Linked DNA regions of Homo sapiens. The protein of the gene in region 1 interacts with the protein of each later gene in a pairwise test. Each region holds a gene or a part of one and is shown in the gene's direction. Other genes may lie near its edges.

Evidence for each region. Proteins that work in one complex are often made in the same cells at the same time.
Region 2: the proteins of SFT2D2 (region 1) and PLIN3 interact in binary tests that used the Homo sapiens proteins (3 or more experiments, as listed by UniProt).

Annotation. Positions count from the first base shown.
Region 1 is NC_000001.11:168,228,418-168,236,770, forward strand, and holds part of SFT2D2 (vesicle transport protein SFT2B), read left to right. Parts: intron 1-3,096; coding exon 3,097-3,183; intron 3,184-3,416; coding exon 3,417-3,502; intron 3,503-6,683; coding exon 6,684-6,765; intron 6,766-8,171; coding exon 8,172-8,207; intron 8,208-8,294; coding exon 8,295-8,353. UniProt on the Homo sapiens protein: May be involved in fusion of retrograde transport vesicles derived from an endocytic compartment with the Golgi complex.
Region 2 is NC_000019.10:4,843,440-4,851,400, reverse strand, and holds part of PLIN3 (perilipin-3), read left to right. Parts: intron 1-3,510; coding exon 3,511-3,710; intron 3,711-6,607; coding exon 6,608-6,733; intron 6,734-7,961. UniProt on the Homo sapiens protein: Structural component of lipid droplets, which is required for the formation and maintenance of lipid storage droplets. Required for the transport of mannose 6-phosphate receptors (MPR) from endosomes to the trans-Golgi network.

The DNA of each region.
Region 1 (8,353 bases):
GTGTGACTAGTTCTATTTCTCCTACCTCTCCTAGGTAGTTATAAAATTTGCATGGCAGTATCTAATTATAGCCTCACGTTGAATTTTGTGATTGATACCTCATCTTCATAAATACACCTTAAGTCTTTAGTTTCAATGGACTTCTTTCTGAAAGTATAGGTTTTATGTTTTTTATAAAGGATTCTGGGGACAAGAAAGGTATGAATAGTATCTAATTTTAAAGTGTGGAAATGAAGCAGTATTTCTTTCTTACCTTCTTCTGGTTACCAATCCTGTTTTTCTGAACAATTCTTAGTATTATTCTTGGCAAGAGCCCCTCTTCTCTCCACATCACAGAGTGAAAGGGACCTTTGTGAATAACTGCCAGTCAGACTGCCTGTGAGCGCATTGCCTACAAATTCCATCCAGGTACCATTTTAGCTACTCTAATTTCCAAAAACAATATGCTAGCACAGCTTCCAGCAGTCATGAATTTACAGACATTTTATGAGTTTGTTTTCATAATTTGGCAAAAAGAAGTGTTTTGCTTTCACTGAGTCCAGTTATGAGAAGTGGAACAACAGCTTCCTCCTTCCCTGACCAAGTGTGAATGTAAAAGAACTTGCAACCACATGTAATGGAAAAATACAGTGGTGAAATATGCCCCCCACCCCTTCCATTTTGGCAAACAGAGTAACATTTGGATGGATTCAGCTTGAGAGACTTGGATATGGAGTGTCACTTTCCTTTCTGAAGGTAGAAACCAGAAACACATTCTTGGCTGAACTGCTTCCTATTGTGGTTATTTTGATTTGTGTGAGGGCTGGAATCTCACTGAGACTGAGCGGAGTCTCGCTCTGTCGCCCAGGCTGGAGTGCAGTGGCTCGATCTCGGCTCACTGCAGGCTCCGCCTCCCGGGTTCAGGCCATTCTCTGGAATCTCACTGTTCTGTTGAGGTTATTTAGCAATCTAGATGTCAAAGCCAATTCAAATTTCATTCTTAACCTTATGGTTTATCCTCTTCAAATAGAAAGGTTGAATCTTTTAAAATTATCCGTGTTGATGCCATGTGGTGCTCAGGGAACCATCCAGTCCAATCTTACTACCACTTTTTTCTTGCTGCTGACAAGCCAGTCCAATCCTACTACCATGCTTCTTCCTGTGAACAAGCCAGGCCAATCCTACTACCGTTCTTCTTCCTACAGACAAGCCATGCCAATCCCACTACCACTCTTCTTCCTACGAACAAGCCAGGCCAATCCTACTACCGCTCTTTTCTTCCCACCTGCAGCTAGTTCTTTTCGCACCTTGGCAAGGTAAGTTCTTTGGTTTTTGCATGACTAGGAAGAGTGGTAGCTTCTCATTTTATTCTGTCCTTGGCGAGAGCTTAAATGCTTTAGTCCGAAGTAGCCTGACTAGATTGTCTGGGGCCTTGTAAAGCCTGCTACCAGAGCATCATCACATGGCTCATTTTGGAGTCCAAGGGGGTTTGGGAAACCAGACTCCTCCAGGAGAGGTTTACCTCAGCGTAAAACCAGGTGGCTCATCTGTCAGATCTTAACACTGGGCCCCTGCTGTCTGTTATCATCCCTAATTTGTGCCTTCTGTGCAGGGTCATGAGCCCAGTTCCATATATATGAATGTATAACCTGACCTAAATACCTTTCTCCTGAGTGGAGAGTAAGGTAGTCTTTGGCAATACGTGCCACACCTGAGGGGAGCCTCTCATCCTTCTTTTCAAGCTTCTGGTTTGACGGGAACTCTGGAGACAGGGTTGAAAACAGATCCCTGAGCTGGGGGTAGTCAAGGCTGACGGAGTTGCCAGTCTAATGACTCTTGACTTTCTGCCACTACCTACCTTCTTCCATCAGCTGGGTGGAAATATAGTAGGAAACTTTGACCACATTGCTAGATGGAGACTATGCTGGCCATACAAGGTGAGCCCTGTGTGAATATACATGGCCTAGCTGCCCTGTGTGGTGTTGGTCTCTTACGGCAGCTGTCTTTGTCCAGCTTGGAACAACTGTTCCCACTTGCATCAGGTGGACAGACTGGTAGGGTCACCAGTGCAAAAACTTTGATGTCATTTTTTTCCGAGACAGAGTTACACTCTTGTTGCCCAGGCTGGAGTACAATGTATGATCTCGGCTCACTGCAACCTCCACCTCCCAGGTTCAAGCAATTCTCCTGCCTCAGCCTTCCAAGTAGCAGGGATTACAGGCATGCACCACCACACCTGGCTAATTTTTTGTATTTTTAGTAGAGACAAGGTTTCGCCATGTTGGTCAGGCTGGTCTCGAACTCCTGACCTCAGGTGATGCGCCCACCTTGGTCTCCCAAGGTGCTGGGATTACAGGCATGAGCCACTGTGCCTGGCTGTTGTCATTTTTGACATGGGAAAAGAACCACTGGGAGCTACTCACAGGCTCTCCTGTTTCAGTAGTGTTTTTGGAACTCCTGGCTTCCCCTGAACTTTGCTCCAGGGAGGGATTAATCATGATGGCAAAGACTCAGGATGTAACAGGACAGTAATTAATTAACCAGGATCTGTCTCCCACTTGGATGAGTTGGCTGATGCCAGCATCCTGTAAGTACAATATCTGAACCAAGAGTGAATAATGTGGGTGAGAGTTGATGTAGGAGACGATGACCAGTGGAGCAGCTGCTTGAGTGCCGTCCCCTCATCTTTTCCTTATTTCCTGGGACCCTGCCTGGTGGAGGATCCCAGGTGGACTTGTGAGTCCCTGGTGGACGCATGCCTTTCCAGGTGTGGTCTTCATCCTGCCTGGGTTGTAGGAAGGCTCTGGGCTACTCTAGGATTGGCTGTCTTGCCTTCCTGTTCTTGAAATGGGTTGTGCTTGAGGCAAGGAGTTTCTACCTCTGAAGATGTTCAGCTGGAGGCACAGCTGTCAGCTGCTAGAGAGGAGATTCATGTCTGCATAATAACTTTACAGCTCTGATAAAGTCTGGATTTGATGACTTACATCGCCTGAGTGTGTAGGATTCTGTGCTCCTTGCCTTCCCTAATACAACTTAACACTTTCTAGATTTAGTTATGTGCTTGCTTTGTTTTTAGTAAATGTGTGTGTATATGTATTTTTTTTTTTTCAATTTTAGGTTGTTGAGGCATCTTCATTAAGCTGGAGTACCAGGATAAAAGGCTTCATTGCGTGTTTTGCTATAGGAATTCTCTGCTCACTGCTGGTAAGATTTCCCTTCCTCCTCTGTCTTTTCCTTCTACCTGTCTTTGCTATATATTCCCCCTTTTGTCCACCTCCTTTCCCCTTTTGCCCTTCACTAAAATGCATGGATGAGAGGAGAGGGGAATAAGGGAGGTGGGGAGGGAAACGGACTCCTCAGGGCTTCCTCTGGGAGCTCTGCTTGTGTGGCCGGGTGGGAGGGTTGCTCATGTGCAAACACTGTACTTTAAATTCCAGGGTACTGTTCTGCTGTGGGTGCCCAGGAAGGGACTACACCTCTTCGCAGTGTTTTATACCTTTGGTAATATCGCATCAATTGGGAGGTAACTGTTTTTTAAAAATCCAATTTTAGCCAATCATTAGATGGGAAAATGGATGTTGGTTGCCCTTGAGGGAGGTGAAAGAGGAGGCTCCAGTAGTTGTAAGGAATTTGGAGAGAAGTAGTTAGAATATCTCACATTCATATCTTATTATTTGAAAACATTTTATATCTTAGTTTGAAACACCTGGGAGAAAGCAGCAAATGTTTTGCCATCGTGATTTTACATGTACAGAAACTGCGACACAAAGCAGTTCAGTGATTTCTCCAGGGTTTACAACCCAGTCCTCCTGCTTGCTGTATTCTTACTGCTGTCAGAGATTGAGTTGATGGTTTTCAAAGGGCTCATCACTCCAGTGGCCATAAGGGAAACTGGTTTTTATTTAGTGTCAGACCTTCCCAGACCTGAGTAGCAGCTCATGTGGGCAGGGCATCTGAGCGCTTCCTGGAGGTGGGCAGCCCATTCTGCATGTTGTGGATGCACACATTTTCCAGGTCAAGCTCATTCACACTGATGCTTCAGTCACACTGGTGCCAACAACTCCACCCTCTCCAACTGGGAGCACTGGCCTGGCCTCTACCTGAATGACCTGCAGGAACCTGAGCTCAGTCATCTTGTTTCCCCCTTTTCCCTTCCCTTGTGTCTCTGTAAATGGCTTCAGAGTCCTGGGGGTCCAAGTCTCCCCTCCATGATTCCTCACCAGGGCTTGATGTAACCCTGTCTTACTGGCTCCTTCCTCTTTGTCCCCATGGCTGTTTGTGCTTCACTGACTGACTTGCATGCTCAATGGGTAAGCATTGATCACACTCTGTGCTGGGCTCAGAGGATACAAAGACAAGTCCAGTTTGGTCCCTGCCAGGCAGACAGACATATAACTCATGATATAACAAGATATGGAAAGAAATTCTCAAGGAGGGGCAGCCGACACGACCTGAGTCAGGGAGGGCTTCCTAGAGAAGGTGATATCTGAGCTGGCCTTAGCTTTGGCCTGTTATCACCCTTACCTGAGCAAGATGCATCTGCTTGGTCTCTCTGTCTCCTCCATTGCCCCTCTCAAGGCCATTTTCCACTGAGCTGTAGAGCCATTCGTTTATAGCCCTGCTTAGCCCCCTCAAGTGGCCCCCTGTTTTGTCTGTACAAATGAAGTCCAAATTCCTCAGCACGCATACAGTCAAGCGTCTTTGAGATCTGGCTTCACCGTTGTCCCATTCCCTATCCAGTGTGCTTCCCAGCCAGGCTGAACTTCTTGCATTTCCCAAAATGCCGTTGTGCCCTTGTTTGGTTGTTTTCTGTGCCTGGAATGCTGCCCTATCTGTACCTCCCCTGGTTTGGTAGATACTTGCTCATTTGTTAAGACCTGGCTCAAAAGCTACCTCTTCTATGAAGCTTTTCCTGATTACCTCCTCCTCTCCAGAATTGATGACCTCTTCCTTTGGACTCTCAGTATCACATCTATATTTATGTGCCAGTGCAGGTAGCATTTTATTACACTGACTTGTTAGATCTGTAAGCCACTTGATAAGGGCTGCACGTGTATCTTGTCCCCAGTTGTACCCAAACTTAGCTCTGTGTCTGGCTGGAAATGGGGGATGTTAATTAAATGATTGATTGCATGATTCTGGCTACCTGTGTAAAGCTTAATTTATTAGTGCTTATGACAGTAAAATGCTGACCCTTAGAGATGTCTCTTGTTGCCTGTAAAGCTTTCTCCAATACTAACTTTGGGTGGGGGGGTGTTTTGGGCAGACAGTGTAAGTTACATTGTATAGTCTAGACTGAGCATAAATATATGGGTGTGTTGCTTAGTCTAGAAGAGCTCTTTAGCAAATCCCTATGGGCTGGATTCTTCATAGACTGTGTAGGGAAATAATAAAGGGAGCAAATTGTTATTTTCAGGGTATTTGGGAGTTTGTGTCTTTGCCTGTAGTCTGTTATGGTTTTGTGTATATGCTATGTTTAATTTTTAGGACCAGCCTTGACTGTTGCTTCTTATTCGGTGTAGGTTAAAGAAGTGTTCTCTTAGTTGGGACACTTGAGAGTGAAGCCTTGCAACTTAATGGCACTTCAAAGAGAGGAAGACTTATTGGCCGGGTGTGGTGGCTCATGCCAAGTTGATGTGTTAGACATGACAGTCTGCTTCATTTGTGATTACTCTTGCTAGCCATCTCTCAAGTTCATTCATACAGAAAGCATGCTGGGGGCCAGGCGCAGTGGCTCACGCCTATAATTCCAGCACTTTGGGAGGCCGAGTTGGGCGGATCACGAGGTCAAGAGATCGAGACCATCCTGGCCAACATGGTGAAACTGTCTCTACTAAAAATACAAAAATTAGCTGGGTGTGGTGGCGTGTGCCTGTAGTCCCAGCTACTTGGGAGGCTGAGGCAGGAGAATCACTTGAACCCAGGAGGTGGAGGTTGCAATGAGCCGAGATTGCATCACTGCACTCCAGCCTGGCGACAGAGTGAGACTCCATGTCAAAAAAAAAAAAACAAACAAAAAAAACCCAGCATGCTGGGTCTGTCTTTTTAGAGCTTTGGAATCCAATAGCTATAGAGTCAAATGGTAGCTGTGTGATTTTCTCGTCTCTAAAATAAGTGTAATACATAACTCACAAAGTTGTTGAGGAGAAGAAATGAGGTAATATATGTAATATCTGGCATTTAGCAAACATTCAACAAATAACCCATGATGATATCATCATCATTAGAATTATTCCCTGAAGATTATGAAAGAAAATGAAATGCTCTACTTTTTAACATAAGCTACCTAAGCCTGTAAGGTATGGTTTTTCTTTAAACTTCCTGAGCCTTGTTTGTTTCCATGAGTAGTTATTGTCAGGGAGGCAAGGTAACACCTCTCAAGGAGAAGGCTTATCCAACCTAGTGGTATGATATGATTCTACAGTAACACCCACATGCATTTACAGCCTGGGTCTATCATTCCCTAGTTGGGTGGCCTTGGATAAAGTAACTCTGTGGGCTTTGGTGTGGTAATTGTTCCTACTTTATAGGTTGGTTGTTGATGGATTAAATGAGAAAAATGCACGAAAGGCCCTTCAGCACAGTCAGAATGAGAGCTTTTCAAATGTTAGCTACTATTGCCACAGGAAATCTTGGGGAGGCGACTCAGTGTGCCTAGTGCAGTTCTGTTCTGAACGGCTTGTGTGCGTGTGTTTGCCTTTTAGTACCATCTTCCTCATGGGACCAGTGAAACAGCTGAAGCGAATGTTTGAGCCTACTCGTTTGATTGCAACTATCATGGTGCTGGTAAGGTCTGCTTTTTAGCTGGACTTCTCAGATGGGAGTTTTTATTTCTATTGTATAGGATGTTTTTCTTTTTAAATCTAAAGACCTCTTCTCTTTTTCCGTTCAGCTTGACTTATTACCCTATTCCTATAACCATGTGGCAGAAGGGAACACTCTAAGTAATACTACGATCCCCTCCTCCCCTACTTTGTGTTTCAGTGGGTGTCAAGGTGCTACCAGTTCTGAAAAGCACCTCTAGAGGGCATTGCTTGTCAGATGAGCCACAGTGGTGTGGTGGTAGTAAGGGAGCTCAGACACCTTCCTGGTGACTGTGGAAGCCACACACAGGCAGGGCTTAGAGGGAATAACTCAGAAACACAGGACTCATTCTCTAGGGTGGGTGTCCTGTCTTATAGAATGGCCTCTTTATTCCTCATTATCTGACTTGGGGACTTATTACTGTTTTTCATCAGTCTCCCCAAAGTGGGAGTGGCCTCCTTATGGCCTGTCATCCTTGTACCCTGCTCTGACAACATTGTCTTTAGCTTTGTTGTATCTTCCTGTTCCATTGACCCTAAATGCCTCTCATTTTTGGCCTATTTTCTTCCCTGTGGTTGTCAAAATCATTCCAGACCTACATTCTCTGGACTTTTATAGCTATTGCAACATTTGGAACTTGAAGAACATACTTTTATTTTTAGTTTCATTTATATAATCTCATTTGTTCAAATAGGTGAGTTATCAAAAGCTGTGACCACATTTCCTGTTTATTTTGTGTCCTTTTAGAGTATTGGGCACAATGCTGGACACAGAGAATATTTAGGACATATTTGAGTAGTTATTGTTATAGAAGGATGGCGAAGAAAGGCATGGCTGACTGCTCTAGCACCAGTTGTCCTTGGCCAGCCTCAGATGCCCACGGCCTGGACAAGTCTCTTGCAGAAAGAGCTTTCTAAGAATGGCCTTAGGGAAAGTGTTAGGTGATAGGTACACAAGTAACTGGCATGCTGACTGTGAGATTGATATCTCAGGTTAACCTTTGTCCTCACATGTGCTTTCTGCTGCAGAGACTAGCATTTGGTAGGAGTTAAAATAGAAAGATTTGTGTTAAGCTTACTTTAGTGCATTTGAATGAAAAGATGGATGGACGGATGAATGGGTGGGCCTGAAATGTGATTTGTTTGCTGGGCAGAGGTTCTGGGAAAACTTGAAAGTAAAAGAACATCTTATCTATGTGAATCTTTATTGGCTAGTTTGATTTCATGGAGATTTTTAACTATTCTGCCAAATATGGGTGCTCAGGTGGGTTAACTGCTTTGAGATGAAGGATGCATAAGTTTTGTGCATTTGTGAAGAATAACAAGTTTTGAGTTTTTTTTTTCCTGCCATGTTATTGTCATTAATTAATGTTTCCTTTCTTCCTTTAGTTGTGTTTTGCACTTACCCTGTGTTCTGCCTTTTGGGTAAATGTATATTTTAATTTTTCTTAACCATTTTGGCTTTTGCCCCTTGTCTCACACTCTCCTATAACCATATTATTATTTTTCCAGTGGCATAACAAGGGACTTGCACTTATCTTCTGCATTTTGCAGTCTTTGGCATTGACGTG
Region 2 (7,961 bases), on another chromosome or scaffold:
CCTCTGCCTCCTGGGTTCAAGCGAGTCTCCTGCCTCATCCTCCTGAGTAGCTGGGATTACAGGCACCTGCCACCACACAGCTAATTTTTTGTATTTTTAGTAGAAACGGGGTTTCACTATGTTGGCCAGGCTGGTCTCGAACTCCTGACCTTGTGATCTGCCCACCTCGGCCTCCCCAAGTACTGGGATTACAGGTGTGAGCCACCATGCCCGGCCCTTTTTTATTTATTTGTTTTAGAGATAGAGTCTCACTCTCTTGCCCAGGCTGAAGTGCAGTGGTGCGATCATAGCTCAATGCAGCCTCCAACTCCTGGGTTGAGGCGAGCCTCCCATCTCAGCCTCCGAGTAGCTGGGACTACAAGCACACACCATCACGCCCAACTAATTTTTCTTTATTTAATTTTTGGTAAAGACGGGGTCTCCCTCTGTCATCCCAGCTGATCCAGAACTCCTTGGCTGGAGTGATCCTACTGCTTTAGCCCCCCAAAGTGCGGGGATTGGGATTTTTGCAAATAAGTAGCTTAGGATATAGGCAGGGCGCGGTGGCTCAGCCTGTAATCCCAGCACTTTGGTGGGCCGAGGTGGGCAGATCACCTGAAGTCAAGAGTTTGAGACAAGCCTGGCCAACATGGTGAAACCCGGTCTCTACTAAAAATACAAAAATTAGGCCGGGCACGGTGGGTCACGCCTGTAATCCCAGCACTTTGGGAGGCCAAGGCCGGGCGGATCACAGGTTCAGGAGATCGAGACCATCCTGGCTAACACAGTGAAACCCCATCTCTACTAAAAAAAAAAAAAAAAAAAAAAAAAAAATTAGCCGGGCGTGGTGGCGGGTGCCTGTAGTCCCAGCTACTCGGGAGACTGAGGCAGGAGAATGGCATGAACCTGGGAGGCGGAGCTTGCAGTGAGCCGAGATCATGCCACTCCACTCCAGCCTGGGCAATAGAGCTAGACGCCGTCTCAAAAAAATAATAATAATAAAATAAACATTAGCCAGGTGCGGTGGCAGGCGTCTGTAATCCCAGCTACTTGGGAGGCAGAGGTTGCAGTGAGCCAAGATTGGGCCGCTGCACTCCAGCCTGGGCGACAGAGTGAGACTCCATCTCAAAAAAAAAAAAGCATGGGTACAGTAGGAGCAGGATTAAATAAATACATGCAGCTGGGCGCAGTGGCTCATGGCTGTAATCCCAGTACTTTGGGAGGCTGAGGCGGGTGGAGGTTGAGGTCGGGAGTTCGAGACAAGCCTGACCAACATAAAGAAACCCTATCTCTACTAAAAATACAAAATTAGCCAGGCATGGTGGCGCATCCCTGTAATCCCAGCTAACTCGGGAGGCTGAGGCAAGAGAATGGCTTGAATCTGGGAGGCAGAGCTTGTGGTGAGCCAAGACTGCGCCATTGCACTCCAGCCCAGGCAACAAGAGTGAAACTCCATCTCAAAAAAAATAAAGGCCAGGTGTGGTGACTCATGCCTGTAATCCCAGCACTTTCGGAGGCTGAGGCAGCTGGATCACATGGTCAGGAGTTTGAGACCAGCCTGGCCAACATGGTGAAACCCCATCTCTACTAAAAATACAAAAATTAGCCAAGCATGGTGGCACATTCCTGTAATCCCAGCTACTCAGGAGGCTAAGGCAGGAGAATCACTTGAACCCGGGAGGCGGAGGTTGCAGTGAGCCGAGATCATGCCATTGCACTCCAGCCTGGGCAACAGAGTGAGACTCTGTCTCAAAAAAATAAATAAATAAATAAATAAGTAAATAAATACATGCATATACACATATGAACCTACGAACATGGGATGAGGCCAGGCGTGGTGGCTCACACCTGTCATCCCAGCACTTTGGTGGGAGGATTAGTTAAGCCCAGTAGTTCCAGACCAGCCTGGACAACATAGACCCCATCTCTACAAAAAATTTAAAAATTAGCTGGGTGTGCTAGTGCACGCCTGTAGTCCCAGTTGCTATTTGGGAGCTGAGACAGGAGGATCACTTGAGCCTGGGAGTTCAAGGCTACAGTGAGCTATGATTGCACCGCTGCACTCCAGCCTGGGCAACAGAGCGAGACTGTACTTCAAAATATAAAAACCGACAAAACAAACAGATCTAAACATAGAAAAGGTACAGGAAGCCAGGTGCAATGGCTCACACCTGTAAACCTAGCACTTTGGGAGTCTGAGGCGAGCAGATTGCTTGAGTCCAGGATTTCAAGACCAGCCTGGGCAACATAGTGAGACCCCATTCCTACAAAAAGTACAAAAATTAGCCAGGTGTCTTGCCGTAGTCCCAGCTTTATGTAGTCCCAGCTACTCGGGAGGCCAAGGTTGAAGGATAGCTTGAAGCTGGGAGGTTGAGCCTGCAGTAAGCTGAGGTCGTGCCACTGTACTCCAGCCTGGGCAACAGACCGAGACCCTGTCTAAAAAAAAGAAGAAAAAGTACAGGAAAAATACGGTATATATGGTATTATAATCTTATGGGACCACTGTAGTATATGCAGTCCATTGTTGGCTGAAATGTCATTATTCTCTTTTTTTTTTGAGACGGAGTCTCACTCTCACCCAGGCTGGAGTGCAGTGGTGTGATCTTGGCTCACTGCAGCCTCCACCTCCCGGGTTCAAGCGATTCTCCTGCCTCAGCCTCCTAAGTAGCTGAGATTACAGGCTAGTGCCATCACGCCTGGCTAATTTTTGTATTTTTAGTAGAGATGGGGTAGTGCCATGTTGGCCAGGCTAGTCTTGAACTCCTGACCTCAAGTGATCTGCCCGCCTTGGCCTCCCAAAGGGCTGGCATTACTGGCATGAGCCACTGCACCCGGCCTACGGTATTATAATCTTATGGGACCTCTGTAGTATATGTGATGTATTGCTGGCTGGAATGCTGTTATTCTCTGCAGGACTGCATAATGAACATTCAGGCCTATATTCACAGGTTGTCCAAGGCAGGTCTGGCCTGCAGGCCATAGCTTGAGACCCTCCTGCTAGTCTAAGGTCTCTGATTCCTGTGAGGTTTAATTTTCCTTATCCCCGTTTTGCAGATAGGGAAAACCAAGGCAGAATCCTTTGCTCCCAGGCCTTCGAGGTTTATAAGAAGTAGAACTGGGTTATAAACTGGACAGCATGGCCAGGTGTGGTGGCTCACGCCTATAATCACAGCACTTTTGGAGGCCAGTTCGGATGAATCACTGGAGATCAGGAGTTCGAGACCAGCCTGGCCAACATGGTGAAACCCCGTCTCTACTAAAAATACAAAAATTAGCTGGGCATGGTGGCGGGCGCCTGTAATCTCAGTTACTCGGGAGGCTGAGGCAGGATAATCACTTGAACCCGGGAGGCAGAGGTTGCAGTGAGCCGAGATGACACCACTGCACTCCAACCTGGGCGACAGAGCGAGACTCCATCTCTAAATAAATAAATAAATAAACTGGACAGTGTGATTCTTGGGACTGTCTGCATGGGACGAGCCCAGCTGTGTGTTCTGGTCTTCACAGAGACCCTTCTCCTTTTCCTTGCAGCCCGCATCGCCACATCCCTGGATGGCTTTGACGTCGCGTCCGTGCAGCAGCAGCGGCAGGAACAGAGCTACTTCGTACGTCTGGGCTCCCTGTCGGAGAGGCTGCGGCAGCACGCCTATGAGCACTCGCTGGGCAAGCTTCGAGCCACCAAGCAGAGGGCACAGGAGGCTCTGCTGCAGCTGTCGCAGGTCCTAAGCCTGGTGAGGTTCCAGGGGGTCGGGGCCCTGAGCCAGCAGCCTTCACCCCGCAGCAGACACCCACCCAGAGCTCAGTGGCTTATTGCTCACCCCTCTGCAGGCTGGCAGGGCCATTCCCGCTTGCTCCTGGCACTGTATCTGGTTGTACACTCATTTGCTCAGGATGCTGCCACAAACCACACTGTCTGGGGCCGGGCACAGTGGCTCACACCTCTTTGTGTGAGTCCCTCAAGTGCTTTGGGAGCCCAAGGCAGGAGGATCGCATGAGTCCAGGGGTTTGAGACCCACCTGGGCAATATAGCAAGACCCCATCTCTACAAAAAATAATTTAAAACAATTAGCTGGCTGTGGTGGTGCGTGCCTGTAATCTCAGCTACTTGGGAGGCTGAGGTGGGACGATTGCTTGAGCCCAGGAGTTGGAGGCTGCAGTGAGCTATGATTGTGCCACTGCACTGCAGCCTAGTCAACAGAGCAAGACCCCATCTCAAAAAAAAAAAAAAAATCGTGGCCAGGTGCGGTGGCTCATGCCTGTAATCCCAGCACTTTGGGAGGCTGAGGCGGGTGGATCACGAGGTCAGGAGTTCAAGACCAGCCTGGCCAACATGGTGAAACCCCATCTCTACTAAAAATACAAAAATTAGCCAGGTACAATGGCAGGCACCTGTAATCCCAGCTACTCAGGAGGCTGAGGCAGGAGAATCGCTTGAACCCGGGCGGCAGAGATTGCAGTGAGCCGAGATCATGCTACTGCTCTCCAGCCTGGGTGACAAGAGTGAGACTCCATCTCAAAAAAAAAAAAAAAAAATTCGTACTGTCTGGGAAATGTAAACAACAGATATTTATTTTCTCACATTTCTGGAGGCTGGAAGTCCAAGATCAGAGTGTCCTTCTGGGGCCTCTCTCCTTGACTCGTAGACAGCCATCTTCTCTCTGTGTATTCACGTGGTCGTCCCTTCCCTCTGTGTATGTCTGTGTCCTAATCTCTTTTTTTTCTTTGAACGGAGTCTCGCTCTGTTGCCCAGGCGGGAGTGTAGTGGTGCAATCTCAGATCACTGCAACCTCCACTTCCCGGGTTCAAGTGATTCTTGGGCCTCCACGTCCCGAGTAGCTGGGATCACAGGCACTTGCCACCATGCCTGGCTAATTTTTGTATTTTTAGTAGAGATGGGGTTTCACTATGTTGGCCGGGCTGGTCTCAAACTCCTGACCTCAAGTGATCCACCCACCTCAGCCTCCCAAAGTGCTGGGATTACAGACACGAGCCACCACGCACAGCTCTAATCTCCTTATTGAAGGAGACCAGCCCTTTATGGATTGGAGCCCACCCTAATGGATAGCTTCATTTACCTTTATGACGATTTTTTTTTTTTTTTTTCCAGAGACAGGGGCTCACTCTGTTGCCCAGGCTGGAGTGGATGATCATGGCTCACTGCAGCCTCTTAGGTGCACCCATCTTGGAGCATATGTCTGCCATCATTCCTCTTTATTTATTTTTCTTTTCTTTTTGTGGCGCGATCTCAGCTCACTGCAAGCTCCGCCTCCTGGGTTCATGCCATTCTCCTGCCTCAGCCTTCTGGTAGCTGGGACTACAGGCGCCGGCCACCATGCCTGGCTAATTTTCTTTTCTATTTTTAGTAGAGATGGGGTTTCACAGTGTTAGCCAGGATGGTCTTGATCTCCTGACCTCTTGATCCGCCCGCCTCGGCCTCCCAAAGTGCTGGAATTACAGGCGTGAGCCACCGCGCCCGGCCTTTTTTTTTTTTTTTTTGAGACGGAGTCTCGCTCTGTCACCCAGGCTGGAGTGCAGTGGCATGCAGTCTCTGCTCACTGCAAGCTCTGCCTCCTTGGTTCACACCATTCTCTTGCCTCAGCCTCCCGAGTAGCTGGGACTACAGGCGCCCACCACCACGCTGGGCTAATTTTTTGTATTTTTAGTAGAGATGGGGTTTCACCGTGTTAGCCAGGATGGTCTCGATCTCCTCACCTCGTGATCCACCCGCCTCGGCCTCCCAAAGTGCTGGGATTACAGGTGTGAGCCACTGCGCTCGGCCGACTATTTTTCTTTTCTCTTAAACTTTATGTAATATGTAGAGATGAGATGTCACTGTGTTGCCTATGCTGTTCTGGAGCTACTGAGCTCAACTGATCCAACCCCCTTGGCCTCCCAAAGCGCTGGGATTGCAGAAGTCAGCCTGCTTCGTTCCTTTGGAAGGCTGAGTCATATTTCATTACAAGCACTTTTTTTTGTTTTTTGTTTTTTGTTGTTTTGAGATAGAGTCTGGCTCTGTCACCCAGGCTGGAGTGCAGTGGCGCAATCTCAGCTCACTGCAACCTCCGCCTCCCAGGTTCAAGCGATTCTCGTGCCTCAGCCTCCTGAGTAGCTGGGACTACAGATGTGCACCACCACACCTGGCTAATTTTTGTATTTTTAGTAGAGACGGGGTTTCACCATGTTGGTTAGGCTGGTCTCGAACTCCTGAACTCAGGTGATCCACCCACCTCAACCTCCCAAAGTGCTGGGATTACAGGTGTGAGCCACCATGCCCAGCCTACAAGCACTTTTTAAGCCTTTGCTGGTTCCATCTGCTCATGTCCCATTGGCCAAAGCCAGCCACGTGTCCAGGCTCCCTTGCAAGCGCAGGAGAAATTGACACAATGGGAAGAGCTACAGGGGATGTGCAGCCCTTCTTTGCACCAACCACACAGAGCCTGAGTATGTCAATGATTAAACCAAAGGCCCCAGAGCTCACCGTAGCCAGGAAACCCTTCCTCCCTCCCTCCCTTTCTCTTTTCTAGACTGTCATGTAAGTCAGATGCTGGAAGGATTCCTTGGGTTCCTTCTGGAATCCCGTCTCTCCCAGGGGAGCCTCCTTCCCTCACTTCTCTCTCCCCTGCCCCAGATGGAAACTGTCAAGCAAGGCGTTGATCAGAAGCTGGTGGAAGGCCAGGAGAAGCTGCACCAGATGTGGCTCAGCTGGAACCAGAAGCAGCTCCAGGGCCCCGAGAAGGAGCCGCCCAAGCCAGAGGTACCCATGAGGGGACTGGGGGGTGGCCTAGGGTACTTGGAGTCCCGATGCCACTCTCTACACCTCTGCTTCATGGGCCTACCTGCTTCGAATGATTTCCCTAGCCTCACCTGCTTTTGGAAGCTAATGACACCTCCTTCAGGAAGCCTGCCTTGATTTCTCCTCTTGGGCATGCATAGGTATGGCTTCTGTTTTTTGTTTTGAGATGGAGTGTTGCTCTGTCACCCAGGCTGGAGTACAATGGCATGATCTTGGCTCACTGCAACCTCCACCTCCTGGGTTCGAGTGATTCTCCTGCCTCAGCCTCCCTAGTAGCTGGGATTACAGGCGCTCACCACCACGCCTGGCTAATTTTTTTGTATTTTTAGTAGAGACAGGGTTTCACCATGTTGGCCAGGCTGGTCTTGAACTCCTGACCTCAAGTGATCCGCCCTGCCCAGCCTCCCAAAGTGTTGGGATTACAAGCGTGAGCTACTGAGCCCGGCCCCTAGCAGCAACTTCTGACTAGTATTCTCCGGCCCCCTCCACTCTATCTCAAGCCTTGGCCTCTTGTGTTCTCTAATGGGTCTCGCTGCCTGTCCCACCACCCACTTAAGCTCCCCAGGGGCAAAGGAAGTTTGCAGTGAGCCGAGATCGCACCACTGCACTCCAGCCTGGGCAACAGAAGGAGATTCTGTCTCAAAAAACAGAAAATGTCCTGAAATTAGATGAAGGTAGTATTTGCCCAACCTTGTGAATGTATTAAAAACCAATGAATCGTACACTTCAAAGGGCGAGTTTTAGGGTGTGTGGATTATATATCAATTTTTGAAATAGTTGTTTATTTATCTTTGAGACAGGGTCTCACTCTGTTGCCCTGGCTGGAGTGCAGTGATGCCATCACAGGTCACTGTGGCCTCGCCATTGCAGGCTCAGGCAATCCTCTCGCCTCAGCCTCCCAAGTAGCTGGGAACACAGGCGTGTGCCACGATGCCTGGCTAATTTTTTTTTTAATTTTTAGTAGAGACAGGATCTCACTGTGTTGCCCAGGCTGGTCTTGAGCTCCTGGTGTCAAGCAATACTCCCACTTCAGCCTTCCAAAGCACTGGGATTACAGGCATGAGCCACCACACCCGACCCCAGATCAATTATTTATTTATTTATTTATTTATTTATTTTTTGAGATGGAGTCTCGCTCTGTCACCCAGGCTGGAGTGCAGTGGTGTAATCTCAGCTCACTACCAGCTCT